3 linked regions of the Homo sapiens genome follow. The protein of the gene in region 2 interacts with the protein of the main gene of each other region in a pairwise test. Each region holds a gene or a part of one and is shown on either strand. Other genes may lie near its edges. The genes, in order: KIFC3, PRPF18 and CARD9.

Region 1 (3,600 bases), on a different chromosome or scaffold from region 2:
AAGGGGAGCAGCCAAATGTCCTCTTCTCCAGGCTGCCTGGCACAGAGCTGGGCACACAACCAACCCTGCAGACCAGCTGTCCAATGGGCAAGGGAAGGAGCAAGGCAGGTCCATCTGCAGTCTCGGCTGCTGGGAAGGTGAGACAGTGCAGGGCATTGGAGGCTGACTCCACAGTGGACAGAGAAGACTTTCAGGGAGATCAGCTCAGCTCAGTCTGAGGGGCAGGGACAGGAGGAGATAGCGTTTCTGCGGTTATCAGGAAGGGAAGTGGAGGAGGCAGCCAGGAAGATATCGGGAAGAAAGAGGAAGGGCGTGTGCTAGATCCCGAAGAGGAAAAAGCAGCTGAATTTAGCAGCCTCAGGGGTGTGAAGGTCAAAAGTATCAAGGAATCTTAAGCCCAGGGTTCTGGGCCAAGAAAGCAGGACTCTCTCTCATTTACATGGGCATCTGAGATGAAACCTGGTGTCCGGGGACTTCTACCAACCTAGGATTCGTGGGGGAGGGCAGTGGGACTGGTTCAGAACCTGGCTCCCCTGTTTACTAGATGTCTGACCTTGGGAGAATTACTTTGCCTCTCCGTACTTCATTATCTCCATCTATAAAATGGGGAGAACACCACCTTATAGGGTTGCTCTAAAGATTAGACAAGGCCAAGTGTTCAGAACAATACTGGCATATACAAAGAGCTCCAAAATTTTATTTTTCAGTTACTTTGCTCCAGTGGTGGGTGAATGCAGAGGGCCTGGCTGGGGAAGAGGGTCTCTGCCTCTCTGGGTTTAGACCAGGACAGCAGAGCTGCAATACTCCCCCTGCCCTAGATCAGGGACATTGCAAAGACTGGGGGGACAGGCTGGACAGCTGCTCAGAGACTGCAGCAAGCAGGGCTTGGTCGCCCTGGGAGAGCAGGCAGAAGGTCAAGGAAGTTGTACAGGGAATGCCACCTCCCTGCACACCATCATCTATCCTGGGCTTTCCAGGGCAACCTAGATTTCAAACCCTCTGCTCCCTGGTGCCCCTGTGAACAGCAGAACTCACCACCCTGTGCCCCTAAAGTCCACTCACTGCAAATGCAGGGCCCCATTCTGAGACTGCATTCCTAGCAAATGACTCTCCCTGGTCAAGGAGACGGCTACTCTAACAAGGGCATGGGGAATACACGTCTGGGAAAGAATGGGTGCTCACCCTGTTCAGGCAGAGGAAAAGCCGGGGAAGGTGAAAGACCAGGGGTGGCCACAACCCGCAATCTTGAGACAGTGTTGGGGTATGGAGGTGGGGGCTGGGTGGCAGTAAATGGTACTCCAGAATTTAATTAAACACAGCTTCCTCTTTAATATCTCCCAGGACCAGGCCCTTCACTGCACCAGCCAGAGTTCTGCTCTAACTAGCAATGCTGGGCTTAAAGGGGTGGTCCTGGGATCGCCCTCCCTGCTGAGACCCTCACAACTGCTGCGGCTGTCAATGGCCCGATTCCTCACTGCCCGGAGGGCACCGGCCAAGGCCCTTCTTCCTAACCTCTGGGCGGGCGCACCCCGCCCCAGGCCCTGCCAGGGAAAAAGCGAACTCCCCAAGGGACGTGGTGGGAGGGACCCAAAGGCAGCCTTCCAGGGAGCCCTGGGGGTGGGGAAGACGCCAGGAAGGGGAGAGGGCGGCGCCGATTGACAAGCCCATCCCGGGTAGGGTCTGCGCTCTTCTCGTTCAATAAAATCCAAACGGGGTCCCGAGGCTGCTCGGATCCCGTGGGACACGCCGCCCCTGTGCCCAGCTCCCAGCAAGGTCCTCGACTCGGGCTGAACGGCGCTGGAGGGGACCTCGCAGGGCTGGGTCTCCCGGGCCTTTCCCTCCCCGCGCCCATAGCGGGTCCGGGCAGAGGGGTCCCGAGGGCAGGGCCGGCCCGGACGCGGCGCCCCAAACGGCGGGCCGGGCAGAGCCCAGCGCCCCGCTCGCACCCAGCCCGCCCGGGCCCCCCACTCACCGGCCTGGCGGAGGCAGGATCCAGGCGTCGCCGCAGCGCCCGGGGCTCGGCCCGGCCCGGCCCGCCGGCAGGAGGCAGCTCCACGCCGCCGCCTCCTCCTCGGCCAGCCCGCTCGCGCCCCTCCCGCACACTTTCCACAGGAAATGATTAACTCGGGCCGCGGCGCGTTCCCATGGCAACCGGCTCCGACCCCGGCGGGGGGCGGCGGCGCGCGCCCGCACTCACGCGCACTGGCGCGCACGCGTCAGCCCGGGCGCGCCCCCGCAGGTCTCCCGCCGGCACTCCCACTCCCACTCCCACTCCTTCGCGGGGCCTCCCACTCGGTCTCTCCCGCCTCCCCGCGTCCCGCACTCGCACTGGCACACGTGCTCATGCGTTCCCTGAAGGCTCTCACAAAACAGGCCTGCACACGGGCTGGCACACACGAGGCAGCCCACACAGCCCCACACCTGGTGAGCCATGCGTACTTTTGCACAGCCTCAAACCCGAGTGCAAAACTTCCACGCGAGTACTCACACATACACTTCTCACGCGGGCTCTCATACCAGTACGTGTCTTCCCATCCCAACACACACACAAGCTCTTACTCACGAGACAATACATGTACATCCCTTACCGTGTCCTTGCACGCGCTGGCGCACATGCACTCACACTGTTTACAGCGCACACGCTCTCACTCGCTCCACCACCTACTCGCTGGCCAGGCCGCCTTCTAGCCACAGCACTTCCTACCTCTGCACCCCCAGCCCCACCCCAGCAAATGAATATCTTCCCAGCAAGGAAGCTGCCTGGAGTCCCTTAAGGTAAAACACACCAATGGTGCAGCAGTTCCCGGCCTTGCTGCAGAAGGCCCTGCTACTGGGGCACCTAGAGCCTCAGAAGAGGCCTGGGGGAGGCCAGGGGCCTGCCAGCCGGGAGAGACAGCTGACCTGGAGGAGCCACTCTGTTCTTTGTCTCCCAAACAGAGGCAGCATTTTATTCCAGAGCCAGCAGCAATATTCTCCCTCACTCTCCACACCCCCGGGTGCGGAAGAGGAGAAAGCAAGTCACTCTGAAGCCAGCCCATGCAGGCTGACGGTTCTGCAGATAATCCCAGGAGGGCGGGTACTCTGTCCCTTCCTGCTTGTCAGGGGATGGCCCAAGAAGATCAAGGAGAGGACTGGAGGGGGTCGGGCAACTCCAGGTGGGTTCTATCTCCTGCTGCCGCCCAGGCGCTGGGCTGCCAGTCAAGAATCTCGACCAGCGACGGAGCCAAGGGCCTGGGCCTCAGATTGTTCTGGACGCCAGAGCAGGACAGTCACAGTCCCCCAGCTGGAAGCAGCCTAGTGCATGCTTTATTTGACAACTGAGATTCCTCAGTGAAGGCCTGATAGAGGGTGAATGTAACGCTCCTGGAATCATTCCCTAGAGAGTTAGATTTCCAGCTGAACACCACACTGGAGAACCCTTCCAATGGGAGAGAAAGCCTTATTTGGGGAGTTATGATCTCTGAATTCCTCTGCCTGCCCTCCAAACAGCAGTGATCCAGGGGACCGCAAGGGTGGATGAAGGCAAAATGTCTCTAGAATTCTGATTTAGTATCTATCTCCCTTGATTATAGTCCCTATGAGTTGATGGGGCGGGGGATG
Region 2 (3,820 bases):
CCCTCTCTACTGGCTCTTGACAATTATAATTTAAGTATGCTCAAGACTCTGCCCTGGGTATCATTTACAGCAGAACCACATTAAACTGTTTAATCTAATCCGTGTCCACTTCCTTACCCCCAATTCTCTTTGCAGCCCCACAGCATGTGGACATCCATTCTGTTTCACTGAAAAAACCTCCTTGGGGTCATAAATAATGTCTAAGATACAAATCCAAAGAGACTTCTCTGACTGATCTCATCCAGTCTTCGATTTAACTGCTCATTCCTTCCTTCCTTCAGTAACTTTCTCCTCTTAGCTGACAGATTCTTCTTATGTCTTCCTCACTTACTGGTTTGCTTAGATTTTCTATTTCTTGTATTTTTTTGTACTTTTTAGCCATTTACTTCACTTAGATTTTCCAATGTATTAGAACTAGTATACAGTTTTCCTTACTAATTTTATTTTCCAATGTCTCCCATGTTGGTTCCTGCCATTCCTTCCATTGGTCCTTCATTTCAGAATGTTTTGTATAATGTGGGGTAGGGGTTGTTGCTTATTATTTCCGTATGGATATCCAGTTGTTCAGCATCATTTACTGAAAATATCTTTCCTTCCATTTGGTTTTAGTGTATTTGTCAAAAATCAATAATTGTGTAAGGGTGGCTCCGTTCTGGGTGCTCTGTTATACTCTAGTGGTGTTAGCTGTTGCTCTTTATGCCAGCGCTATGCTGTTTTGATTATTGTAGCATTGTTACTGCAGCACAGCATAGTATCTTGCATATAGGAAAGATGCAGTAAATACTGGAAGGAAAAAAAGCTAAAATTCTGCACATAGCTCATCCTCATAACTACAACTAGTAAAACTACTAATTACTCCCCATTGAGTTTCTAGAGCAGCCTGGTTTTCCACACGAGGTTTTGCATTAAATGAAAACTCACCAATTCTAGGCTCCAAAACACTGGTGTTCTAGCAATGCAGACACATTTACCTCAGGGTGGTTACACCAGGCAGGGCACTTTAGGACAGGTGGTAAGAGGATATCTTAGTCACTTCTCTGCAATTTGAGAAAGAGGCACTCACAAGCTAAGTACTGATTATTTCAACTATCACAGATTAACCACAAAAAGCTGGGACACCACTTGAAATGACCAAAGATGAGGTGGCTCTTCTTTCTGCAAGAGCAACACCACACAGACAACTGTTTTCCAGCTACAGATGCGGTAATGACAACAATCTACTGATCCCTGACCCGTGTTTTCTAAAAAATTAAAACAAAGGGACTTGCTCTTCCCCATCTTGTAAGATGGTGGGTGAAAAAGTTGAGAAGCCGGATACTAAAGAGAAGAAACCCAAAGCCAAGAAGGCTGAGGCTGGTGACAAGGTGAAAAAGGGTCACCTCAAGGCTAAGAAGCCCAAGAAGGGGAAGCCCCATTGCAGCACAACCCTGTCCTTGTCAGAGGAATTGGCAGGTATTCCCGATGTGCTATGTATTCCAGAAAAGCTGTGTATAAGAGGAAGTACTCAGCCGCTAAGTACGAGGTTGAAAAGAAAAAGAAGGTTCTTGCAACTGTTACAAAACCAGTTGGTGGTGACAAGAATGGTAGTACCCAGGTGGTTAAACTTCATAAAATGCCTAGATATTTTCCTACTGAAGATGTGCCTCAAAAGCTGTTGAGCCATGGCAAAAAAAAAAAAAAACCCTCAGTTGACACGTGAGAAAACTGCGAACCAGCATTACCCCGGGGAACGTTCTGATCATCCTCACTGGATTCCACAGAGGCAAGAGGGCGGTCTTCCTGAAGCACCTGGCTAGTGGCTTGTTACTTGTGACTGGACCTCTGGTCCTCAATCGAGTTCCTCTATGAAGAAAACACCAGAAATCTGTCATTGCCACCTCAACCAAAATTGTTATCAGCGATGTAAAAATCCCAAAACATCCCACTGATGCTTATTCAAGCAGCAGCAGCTGCAGAAGCCCAGACACCAGGAAGCTGAGATCTTCAGCACAGAAAAAGATAAATACAAGATTACAGAGCAGCACAAGATTGATCAGAAAGCTGTGGAGTCACAAATTTTACCAAAAATCAAAGCTATTCCTAAGCTCCAGGACTACCTGCGATCTGTGTTTGCCCCGACTCATGGAATTTATCCTCACAAATTGGTGTTCTACATTTCTTAAGAAGAACCTAATTAAATAACTGATAACAAAAAAGGAGGACTGAATAAAACATGATAAAATCATTTGTGGTTGTAAGAATTATTTCATAAAACTTTTTTCACATACATATCAGATCAATATATAAAAATGTATTGCTATGAACGGGGCAGTGAAAAAGTCTGTAAGTTACTGACAGACACTGTGATGCAGAAAGATGAAAAATATAAAGCAACTATTCTGCATGAAATGATAGAGCTGCAGATCTAAAGACTGTCTTCCCATGGATACAACAGAAAAGACGCCTAGTTGTGTATGTTCCCTTACATCATGCAAGAGCACTCACCCTCAAGTTGGTCTAAGACTTGAGATCTATCCCGGCTGGCCACAGGAATATGAGAACATCGTGTAACCCTCTAAGCCTCAATTTCATCATCCATGAAAACAGCATTGCCTTGTGCACTAATTAACCGTTGTAAAGCTCAAATCAGATAGCATATAGCACTTTGAAAAATATAAATCATGTTAGTCTAATAATTTTCCAGTGCTTTGTTACATTAGCCCTATCAAAACTAGTTCTATGTTTGTAAGGTGAATAAATATCCATTCTATCTGTACAGGTTAACAGATCAGGCTCTGAAGTAGGAACAGACCAGGGTTCAAATCCAGGCTCTATCTCTTGCTAGCTGCATAATCCTATAGTCATGTAACTTCTCTTAGCTTCCAGTTTCCTCATCTGTAAATGGGAACAATGGCAACTTGTTGTACAAGTTAGAAAACACATATTGCATGATGCCTAACATTACTGCTAATATAAACTATGAATGTCAGTATTTTTTTTTTTTTTTTTTGAGATGGAGTCTCGCTCTGTCGCCCAGGCTGCAGTGCAGTGGCACAATATCAGCTCACTGCAAGCCCCGCCTCCCGGGTTCACGCCATTCTCCTGCCTCAGCCTCCTGAGTAGCTGGGACTACAGGCACCTGCCACCATGCCCAGCTAATATATATATATATATATATTTTTTTTTTTTGTATTTTCAGTAGAGATGGGGTTTCACCGTGTTAGCCAGGATGGTCTCAATCTCGTGATCTGCCCACCCCAGGCTCCCAAAGTGCTGGGATTACAGGCGTGAGCCACCGCGCCCGGCCGAATGTCAGTATTTTAATTCCCATTTCATGTACGCCCTTTGTTGGTCTGAACTGCTCTGTGATTGAAAAAATCAATCTTATCTTCTGGCTGGAATTATGTGATAATTCAATCAACTACCAAATTAAAAAATGAAAGACACCCAGGAAAAGTTTATATATTATAAATTATAAATGACCCTGAAGAATCTAAAGTTTTTTTTTTAATGATCATTTTTGTAGATTGGTGCATTTCAATGACGAAGAACATGATTATGCAAATATTCATGTTGTGAACCTTGAGGGTGGGCTGAATATTTTGTGATTCACTTTTCCCTTTAAAGCACTTAGATTTCAACACCCTGGCCCTTCCTAACATCCACTATGCACTCCAACACCTAAATTTAAAATACTCCCAACCACTCATCAAAAGGTCCCTGCAGTAGACATAAAAACATTTACAAATATGAACAAGCTTTTCCCCATACCTACCAAACAGCATTCTATTACCTCCACTTTTCTAATTGTTTTTAAAGTTTCAATGATCATGAAATTTGC
Region 3 (3,820 bases), on a different chromosome or scaffold from region 2:
CATTTGGCCACCTGCTCTTCCTCCACCCAGCCCAGCCCACCGAGCAGGGCCATGTGACGGGCAGTGTGGGGCTATGCCTGGTGGCAGCTCAGCCAGGACCCCAGGTGAAGGAAGGCCAGCCTCGTGCTGGCTGGGGTCTCACTCACCTCCTGGGACCTCCTGGGTGAGCCATCTTCCAGGTCGGAGCTCTGTGGTCATAGAAAATGGGGTGGGTGGGCTGTGAGGGCAGAGGGCTCCCCAGGCACAGGGTGGGCAGGGCACAGAGCGGGATCCTCCAGGGAGCCCTGGGCATGCCCTCAGCCACACCAGGCCCCCTCCATGCCCAGAACAACCTGCTAGGCTGCCTGATGGCCAGGCCCAGGACCCACCCCGGCCCTGCAGCCCCACTTCCTGCTGGGACCCTGAACTGCTCGTGTGCCCTCACCCCACTGCCAGGAGGGGTTTGGTTAGGTTGGGGCCCGTCACAGAGAAGGGTTGGGTCGGGAAGGCCGGGGCTGAGGCTCCGTGCTCCCCTGGCCCTGCATCCCACGCGCCGGCTCCCCTCCCTGCCGCAGGCCCCAGGCCCACCAGGACGAGCGTCTCCAGCTGCTGCCGCCTGAGCCTGCCCTCCACGGCCAGTAGCTGCGCCTCACACTGGAACACCTGCAGCTGCAGCTCATCCGCCTTCTCGCCCAGCTCCCGCACCTGCTTGCGCAGCGCGTCCTTCTCCTGCAGGCCCCGGGCGTGCTGTGCGTGCAGCTCCTCCCGCGTGGCTATGGCCTGACGGGACAGCACAAGGCCGACCCTCAGTGAGGGCCCCAAGCTTGCCCTGGGCCCTCGGCCCGGCCGCCCAACTCCAAGCAGAGGCTCCGGAGGACGTCAAGCCGCTGGGCGCGGAGGCTGGTCACAGCCCCTCCATTTGTGTGCTCTGCGGACACGAAGTCAGCACGTGGGGGATTGTAAATGTGACAGTTGTCCCTGCTGCCCTTCTGTCTCCTCCCAAGCCTGCACCCCCGGTGGACACAGCGTGTGCTATGTACCCCCACACGTGCACATTTGATAAATTTTGGACGCGGCTTGATATGGAGACCCTGACTGTCCATAGCTAAGCGTCCTTCGTGACCGCAGCACTCTTTACCACCCCTGTCCTCACTGCGGACACTGAGACGCAGGAGCGAATGTGCAAACACGACGGCTTGACCACCCCTGCAGCCGAGGCTGGGAGGCCCTCACCTAACCCCTTCTGCCCAGACTGGAGCAACGGCTGGCAGCTTCCCTAATCCCTGGCCAACGCGCTCCCGGGAAGTCCCGTGGGAGCCCCCGCCCTGGGAGCCACACCAACCCCCATGGGGGCACAGCTGGATCTGCCCTTTTCCCCTGCCTTGGCGTGGGCCAGGCGCGAGTGAGGCTGAGGTGGGGCTGAGACAGGAGCTCTGAGCCTGGGCTGCTCTCATGGGGGCCGGGGCTTCCTTTGTAGCCCCAGGGGTCTCGTTTTAAGGCTCCTGATGTGGACAAAGTGCCATCCAGCATTTAGCCGAAGCAGCAATGGTGTCCATTGGAAACAACCTCCAGGATGGGACTTGGGACGGGGCATGGGAAGCAGACACAGCCCTGCCCCGCGACGCTCCATCCGGCTCACAGCACGTAGCACTGGAGGCCTTGCAGGCCTCACTCCCGTGGCCCAGGCTGGAGTGCAATAGCGCAATGGTGACTTGCTGCAGCCTCAGCCTCCTAAATAGCTGGGACCACAGGCATGCGCCACCACGACCAGTTAATTTTTTTTTTTTTTGAGACGGAGTCTCGCTCTGTCACCCAGGCTGGAGTACAGTAGCGTGATCTCAGCTCACTGCAACCTCTGCCTCCTGGGTTCAAGCAATTCTCCTGCCTCAGCCTCCTGAGTAGCTGGGATTACAGGCGCCCGGAACCACACCAGGCTAATTTTTGTGTTTTTAGTAGAGACGGGGTTTCCCCATACTGGCCAGGCTGGTCTCGAACTCCTGACCTCAAGTGAGCCGCCTGCCTCGCCCTCCTAGAGTGCTGGGATTATAGGCGTGAGCCACCGCGCCAGGCCAATTTTTGCATTTTTTTGTAGAGCAGGGATCTCACCGTGTTGCCCAGGCTGCTCTGGAACTCCTGGGCTCAAGTGATCCGCCCGCCTCAGCCTCCCAAAGTGCTGGGATGACAGGCGAGAGACACCACGTCCAGCCAAGCTTTTTTTAAGATTAAAAAAAGCTACTGGTAAAACAAGACAGAATGTTTCCATTTTTGTAAAACAAAACCAAATATATAAATAGATAGATAGGTGATAGATGATAGACAGATGGATACATGGATAGATGACAGGTAAGTCTGTAAGGTGGAGCGGGAAGGTTGAACACGGTTTTCCCTGACAGTAGGCTGGGGTGGGGAAGTATTGACTTCATCATCGTTTACTTTTTTTTAGTGTTAAGTATTGCTTCTGTCATTTAAAAAACAGACCAGGTGTGGCAGCTCAGCTTGCAATCCCAGCACTTTGGGAGGCTGAGGCCGGAGGATTGCTTGAGGCCAGTAGTTTGAGGCCACCCTGGGTGACATAGCAAGACCCCATCTCAAAAACAAATAACAAAGATTAAAAATCCTCTGACAACTGCCCTCAAGGGCCGTGGCCCTGGTGCACCCACCCGCGAGTGGGGTGCTTTGTCCTGCCCCTGCGAGTGCCCACCTGGTCCCGCTCAATGGCGACCTCCTCCATCTGCAGCAGGATGGCCTCGATGCGGTCCTTGTACATCTTGGAGTCCTTACGTAGTGCCAGGCACTGCAGCTCGAACATCTCCTTCTCCTCCATGCACTGCAGGGGGCGGCAGCTCAGCCCCCACAGGCCTGAGGCCCCCCATTCTGGCCCTTGGGGTATACTCCGGGCAGGGGCTCAGAAGCATGTGGTCAGGCCAGTTGGGATGTCGGGGGAGGCCATAGGAGTCCCCAGGCCCCTACCAGCCCTGCACTTCCAGACCGCGGCAGGACAGGGCCCTCCGGCAGGCCTCAGACACTGCTGTGCCTCAGGCACCATGAGCCCAGAGGTTGGCCTTTGCCATGGGGGGCAGGCGGGCAAGGAGAGGGCACCGTCCACTGTGCCTCCAGGAGTGGGTGAGTGGAGGCGCTGCACTGGGGTCTCCACACCCCACCTTCCAGGCACGGAGTGGGCGGAGCTCAGCCCGTCCAGCCTGGCTTGGACCCCAGGGGCCATGTCTCCCCGCCTGCCCTCCTACCCGGAGGCGTCGGGCCTCGCCCTGGCGGAGGTCCTTGCGCAGGGAGAAGATGGTGTTGGCCTGCTCCTGGTGGTCCCGCAGCGCCTGCCGCCAGTCCTCCTCCAGTACCTGGATGTAGGGGCTGCTCCTGTCCAGCTTCCCCTCCTGAAGGGGGCAAAAGGCAATGGCCTGGCTGGGAAGGCCCCCACTGCCCTGCCTGGGCTGCACCTGCCCTGCCTACGGCCCCACCTGGACGGAGGCCTCCAGCTCCTGCACCCGGGCCTGGAGCAGGGCCTTCTCCTGCTGCAGCTCCCACAGCAGCTCCTGGCTGGGCCGCTGCTCCATGGCGTGCCTGAGCTTCAGCGTGTGCTTGCGCTCCACCTTGCAGTCGTCCTCGGCCTTCATGAGGCTGTGCTTGAGCTGGTCAATCTGCAGAAGGTCCAGTGAGCCTGGCTGTCCCCTCCAGGCGGTGACCGCAGACCCGTGGGGCCACCCCCGACCGCCCCGGCCTGCAGACCCCGCCAGGCCAGGCGAGGGTGGCCTGGTTTCCCGGGGGCAGCGGGCGCACCTCCAGCTGCAGGTCACGGTTCCGCATGAGCGCGGCGCCCTTCTCCTCA

Evidence for each region.
Region 1: the proteins of PRPF18 (region 2) and KIFC3 interact in binary tests that used the Homo sapiens proteins (3 or more experiments, as listed by UniProt).
Region 3: the proteins of PRPF18 (region 2) and CARD9 interact in binary tests that used the Homo sapiens proteins (3 or more experiments, as listed by UniProt).

Annotation. Positions count from the first base shown.
Region 1 is NC_000016.10:57,800,398-57,803,997, forward strand, and holds the start of KIFC3 (kinesin-like protein KIFC3), read right to left. Parts: upstream 2,095-3,600; 5' UTR 1,973-2,094; intron 1-1,972. UniProt on the Homo sapiens protein: Minus-end microtubule-dependent motor protein. Involved in apically targeted transport. Required for zonula adherens maintenance.
Region 2 is NC_000010.11:13,589,790-13,593,609, reverse strand, and holds part of PRPF18 (pre-mRNA-splicing factor 18), read right to left. Parts: intron 1,843-3,820; exon of another isoform or gene 1,743-1,842; coding exon of another isoform or gene 1,722-1,742; intron 1-1,721.
Region 3 is NC_000009.12:136,367,070-136,370,889, forward strand, and holds part of CARD9 (caspase recruitment domain-containing protein 9), read right to left. Parts: coding exon 3,772-3,820; intron 3,633-3,771; coding exon 3,453-3,632; intron 3,369-3,452; coding exon 3,225-3,368; intron 2,807-3,224; coding exon 2,681-2,806; intron 2,229-2,680; exon of another isoform or gene 760-2,228; coding exon 568-759; exon of another isoform or gene 555-567; intron 189-554; coding exon 147-188; intron 1-146. UniProt on the Homo sapiens protein: Adapter protein that plays a key role in innate immune response against fungi by forming signaling complexes downstream of C-type lectin receptors.